Regions from separate parts of the Homo sapiens genome. Here region 2 is linked to region 1. Evidence: fine-mapped expression QTL. A gene starts in region 1. The other region holds a variant in brackets. All regions are shown on one strand. Distances are between the middles of the regions.

Region 1 (2,929 bases):
TTTCCAGAATTTTCTCTCTAGAGCTGGTAGTAGGATCTGTGTGTAAGGCACTGGTTCCAGGAAAGGTGAGATTAGCAGATATCTTTCATTATAACTATACCTTTATGTCAAAGCCAGCTAAATGAAACTATACACTAAAGTTAAAAGTTTAAAAATACTATGATTATGATTGAAGGACCACTTATAACCACCTTTAAAGAATAGTTTTGTGGCTGGGTACAGTGGCTCATGCCCGTCATCCTAGCACTTTGAGAGGCTGAGGCAAGAGGATTGCTTGAACCCAGGAGTATGGACAATGTAGTGAGACCCTGCCTCTATGAAAAAAAATGTAAATAAATAAAGAATAACTTTGAGTTGATATTAACTCTGGGGACTCACAACACTGCTTAATACAGATTAGAAAATATTATCAGGCAACATTTTATAACAGTAACTATTATTGCAGAGAAAACATTTTGGGAAAGGTGAACACCAGTGAGAAAGAAAAAGGTAGTTGGGTTATATGAGCACAAGTCTATAGATTTTGGAACAGAATTATGCTGTATTATTATCTAATTATGTATCCAAATCATCGTGGTCAAGTAAAAGAAGAAATTCAGCTATAGGGAGAGGAGGTGGCAATATGGGGTTTTAAACAAAATCTCTATCTCTACTCTTATCTATCTTATGCTGAGAGGTGCAGGGTCGAGTTATCCTAGATCTTAACTTAATGAGAGTCCTGGAGGGGAAATGGGAGCCCAGTGGAAGGAGCTAGAGGTGAAATCTTGGATTTTAGGGCCCTGCAGACACACAAACCAGAAGAGAGTGAATGATCCTTATTAAGGGGTCTGCAGAAATGAAGGAATTTCTTAAGAACCCCTACATGTACCAGGTGCCAGAAATAGTAAGTTCCTCTTCTAAGCTTCCTTGGTTTTTCTTGCTCTGTGCACAGCCCTTCCTGCTTAGTCTGTAATGAGCACTTGTTTCTCTGCTTAATCTGTAACTAGCAAACCTCTTACTCTGTAAACAAGCCTTCCCACCTAGTTGGTAAGGGACAGCCTCTGCCTTCTCCCCTAATTGGCCTTACTCAATTTCAAATACTAGCCAATCGGGTCAGCTTAGACTGTGTGGTCTGACTCCAGCCAATGGGGAAAGGACTCAGAACAGGAACTGTGTTAGGGATAAAAACCCCTGCCCTACCTGGCTAGGTGTGCTCTTGTGATTGTGACTGACACAGGCAGCACCCTTTTGCAGAAGTAGATGTGCGTTGCTGAGAAATTTTCTGCCTAAGTTCTGGTTTTCTTTGCAGCACCCAGCATTTGTTTCTAACACAGGGAAAGAGTGAGCTGGAGAAACCTCTCAAATTCAAGAAAGCGTAAAGCAAATTGAACAATACGGGTGAGGTAAGAACTTGACTTCTCTAAGTTTTTCCCCTCTACCACCCTCTTCCTAAAATAATTACAGGATGTAGAAGCTAAGATGAGTAGGCTAAGGAAAAAATTGGTAGGAAAGAAAGAAGATGCCAGAAGATGTCAAAGGTTTTTGCTTCCAGCAGACTCTAACTAAATAAATGTTAAATTAATGTAAAAATAAATATGGGCTTTTGATTATTACATGGAACAAGATCATTTAATTTTTTAACTGATTGGAGTTTAAAATTGCAGTTACTTAAGATTGACCCCTAAGTTTTGAGACTTCCCAAGTCTTTATTCCAGGTAAGTGGGAAGATAGAACATTTTAGAGAATATCTTCACTTTAATCAGGTTGAACCTTATATAGCTAACATTTTCTTTTGTCTCAAAATTATGAGAAAGGAAAATGTCATATGAACTCAGAAAAGTAATAGGATCTAAACTTGAACAAGTAAAAAAATCATGATTTTTCAATTCTCTTGTGTATATAAATTACTTAGACCAATCTTTAGCAAAAATAAAATGAGAACTGTTTTATAAACAGTAAAGCGTCTACAGATTATTCAAGAAAGAAACCTTATCTGTGAGTTCTTTGAGAACAAAAGCATTTTATGACAGCTGTGAACTAATTAGTGTCATTAGGTATTAAAAGGCAAGAACAACAAAAAACAGTGAGCAGACCATATAGAGAAGTTAGAGGACTGGAAAGAAATTAGGCATGATGTAAAGTTTAAGAACAGTAAAAACTAAATATCATTTGCATTGAAGAAAAGGTGTTTGAAAATGATGAGTTCTGTTTTTTGTTTGCTTGTTTATATTTTTCTTTTGGTAACTTTTCTTACCCCTCCCCCAAAACTGTTAAGTGCTTCATTAGTAAACAACATGATGGACAGAAAGGAGGAACACATTATGAATAGTTTTGGCTTAGAATTATGTGTTAGTTTATAATAGCATGTCTAAAATTTTTGAGTTGTATGTAAAATGCTTAAGAATTTTTAATAAAAAATCCCAGTGTGTTGTGATATCTCTTGATCTAAAATAGCTAACATCTGAATTTTATGATTTCATGCAACAATTTTATTTCATTCATGATTTTGTGGGTCAGGAATTCTGGAAGGGCCAGGCTGGGTGATTCATCTTTGCTCAGGTTGGCAGCAGTAGAAGCTGTGGGATACACTCAAGATGGCTTCTCCACCCCCATATCTGGTGCCATGGTGCTCCCTGGCCTCTCTTTCTTTCCATACAGCATTTCCAGGGCCTCTCCAATGTGGCCTGGGCTTCTCACATACAATGGTTTCAGGATAAGTAGCTCAGGGCTCTGGAAGATCAAGAAAGAGACACTAGTTCTCCTACAGGCTGAGTCTGGAACTGGAGTGGAATAATCTCTGATGCTCTCTATTGTCAAAGCGTAGTCCACCAGTTTAGATTCAAGAGAGAGAAATAGATTCCACCTCTGCATGGAAGGAGGGTCAGAAGTTTTTCAGCTTTCTTAACCCTCCACACTATAGTTTATCAACCTTTAAGTTTGTCGAGCCTTC
Region 2 (2,929 bases), 87 kb before region 1:
AATTTCTGCATAATAATCCCTGAATGGCAGGACTGCTGTCAGCATTTGAGGTGATATTTGCCGTTTCTTTGGTCCAAAATTTAGTACATACAAGGGACTCAATAACGATTAGATATTGTTATTAGTTGTCCAGAAAGCAATCTGCTTGCACCAGGCCTTTTGCTCCTGGAACATCCCATGTTTTTAACTTCGCTGATACTTTGTTTTGCTCTAGAGGGAGTGGAAACTAGCTTAAGGAGGTGAAAACATATCTCGTTATGAAATGGCAATTCATTTTCCTAAAACTATACAGGGAATTCAGTTTCCCCATATCTAAAAAGAGTGGGTGGGCTATGAAATATCTAAAAAGAGTGGGTGGGCTATGAAATATCTAAAAAGAGTGGGTGGTCTATGAAATGGAATGGGTTAAAGACTTCTCTGAAGGCCTTAATTTCTAATATAGCGGTTTGTATCTGCTGTGTACGCAGATGAGAGTTGTACCTAACCGAGGAGCGGGCGGTCCTTGCAGCGTGGGCTCCAGGAAAGGAAAGGAAGCCTTGACGCAGCATCATTTATGGACTTGAACACTAGGTGTCGCTCGCGCACTTGTTTTCAGCCGTAGGATTCAGAGACGGTATTTTAGGCTTAGACCCAACACTTGATTTACAGTTCTTCCGAATCTTTGCCCCACACTTATACATTGTTTTCGGATGTTTGTGCCAATCTCCTGCTAACCTATGCTCTCTGCCTGAACCTCATTCACCTGCCTCAAATTTCTGGCTTATTGAAGAACAGAACTCCTTAATTCCATTTCACTGCTTTCTAGGTCTCAACATTTTTGCTCTTCTTTTCTGAGAAGTGTTCGGCAGTATACCATATCTACACTCCCATCCATAGGCCTCTTAGTGCACCAGATCCAAAATATCTTATATAAAGGATGATATAAATATCTTACATAAAATATAAATGTATAATGTCTATAAAATATCTTTCAGTATCTTTTAATATCTAAAGTACCTTGTGTAACGATCTTATACAAAGTATGACATCTTATATAAAGTATTATATAAAGTCATTGATTCACTGAACAAACATTATTTAGTTTTGTGTGCAGCATAGAATCATCTTATGTTTTGATGTAAACACTCAAGTATTTGTTCCTGATGTATTCAGAAGAATATTTAGGGAATATGAAAATTCCCTAACACATATAAAGGATATCGTTTATCCACTGGAGTGTATAGATAGGATAATTTTTCTAAAAATATAAGATCTCTCTCTTAGAAAA[G/A]GATAAATACATTCTGTGTTGCTTCTAATGTTTGTCAGGGGAAGGAGGCCACATTGAGTTCTATTGTGAGAAAAGAAGCAGAATGAGAATGAGGTCTTTTGCATGGAAGGGATAATGAGAGTTTGGGCAGAGCAGGAAGAGACTACTAAAGAGGGGACGAAGTCAGCAAAAGGATGGACTTGGCTAGGGAGAGCCTGTATTCATGCCCCTGAGAGGTCTGAGCGTGGTTGATGACCTGGAATGGGTGTATTCTTTGTGTCCAAACCTGTGGCTCAGGGATGACCTAGCTGGGCCAGCTGTCCTCATTAAATAGTCATTATTTTTATTAAATGGAGGATCGTGCTTCATTCAAAGTCAATAACAGCTAGTATCAATGACTAAGATATTGACTGCCTAGTAGTAGCAACATCCCTGCCTACACCCAGAGATATTATCAGCCAATTACCTCATCATCTGGTTATGGGGGAATCTGTGTTCTGCGCCATGCCTTGAGCATGACACATATTTTGGCAAACCTATGTCTAGGTTTCCTTTCTGCAATACCATATGAAATAGTAAACTCGAGTGACCACTGGACTTCTAATGGGATGAGCAGTGTGGCAGAAGTTTCTGTTTTGCTAGGACCATCCTAACCTAAGAAAGTCATGAAGTAAACTCCACAGTATCGTGTATGAAATTCTATGCTAGGCATTGTAGACTAAATAGAGATGAATAAGACTTGATTCCTTATGTCTGATTCCTGTTTATGGGGCAGAATGGATACTATGGGTCCATGATAAAGTGTCAGGTCAGGAGGGGAATACATTGGGGTAAGTATTTCCCTACTTGAGACAGTAAATGCAAATAAGGTTTTGTAAGTCCCTTTACTCTTAAGGTAGGGCTCAACTCTGTTTTAATACATTTCTGACTTCTGAGTTCATTGGTTTATGTGTGAAACAAAAAGATTACTTTCTTAATTTCTTGAAAAAGTCCAATATCATCTGTAAAGTCTTTTGTTGATGTTATATGATATCACACAGAGGAAGAATTATGGGTTGGATCGTAATACTATTAGCTTGATGAGTTTCTGGCTGAACATTGAACCACACATTGCTAATCTGATATGTTTTCTGCTGGTAAATATCAGAGCCTTGTTGTGGCCCGTATTCTGTTCAATACGTTCATCAGGGATTTGGATAAAGATATGAAGGACACACTCACCAAACATGTGGATGACACAGAGTTAAGAGGGTTCATGAAAAAAAACCCTAAATGACAGAATCAGATGAAAGCGGTCCTAACATGATAGAAAGATGAACCAAACTCTAAAAGAAGTGTGATAGAGATAAACATTAAGCACTATATATATAATATATATATATATATATATATAACTTTAGTATTGTTAACCAAAATAAACTAGGTTCCTGCACTAGGCCTGACAGACCAAACCAACATAAAGTTGAACTCCAGGAGCTGAGCTTTAGTTACTGCAGGACGCTCCGTAGCCAGTTAACCAATGAAGCTGTATCCAATTCAGTTTTCTGTACACCGTACTTCTGTTTCCTATAAATGCTGTCAGATCATGTTATTAGTTGGAGTTCTCTGAACCTGCCCTGGTTCAGAGGACTGCCTGATTTGTGAATCATTTTCATTCTGTTTTTACTTTGCTTTGCTTTCCTC

Evidence for each region.
Region 2: its variant is fine-mapped to the expression of LINC01612 in lung (TOPMed, PIP above 0.99).

The regions. Positions count from the first base shown.
Region 1 is chr4:170,225,402-170,228,330 of GRCh38, forward strand. LINC01612 (long intergenic non-protein coding RNA 1612) reads left to right here and starts at 1,190. Exons shown (of 3, transcript NR_125889.1): 1 at 1,190-1,382.
Region 2 is chr4:170,138,217-170,141,145 of GRCh38, forward strand. No RefSeq gene overlaps it. Among named protein-coding and RNA genes, the nearest start is that of AADAT, 50 kb to the left of the region's middle. RefSeq lists silencers at 422-716, 487-636. The variant G/A (reference allele first, on the strand shown) is at 1,268.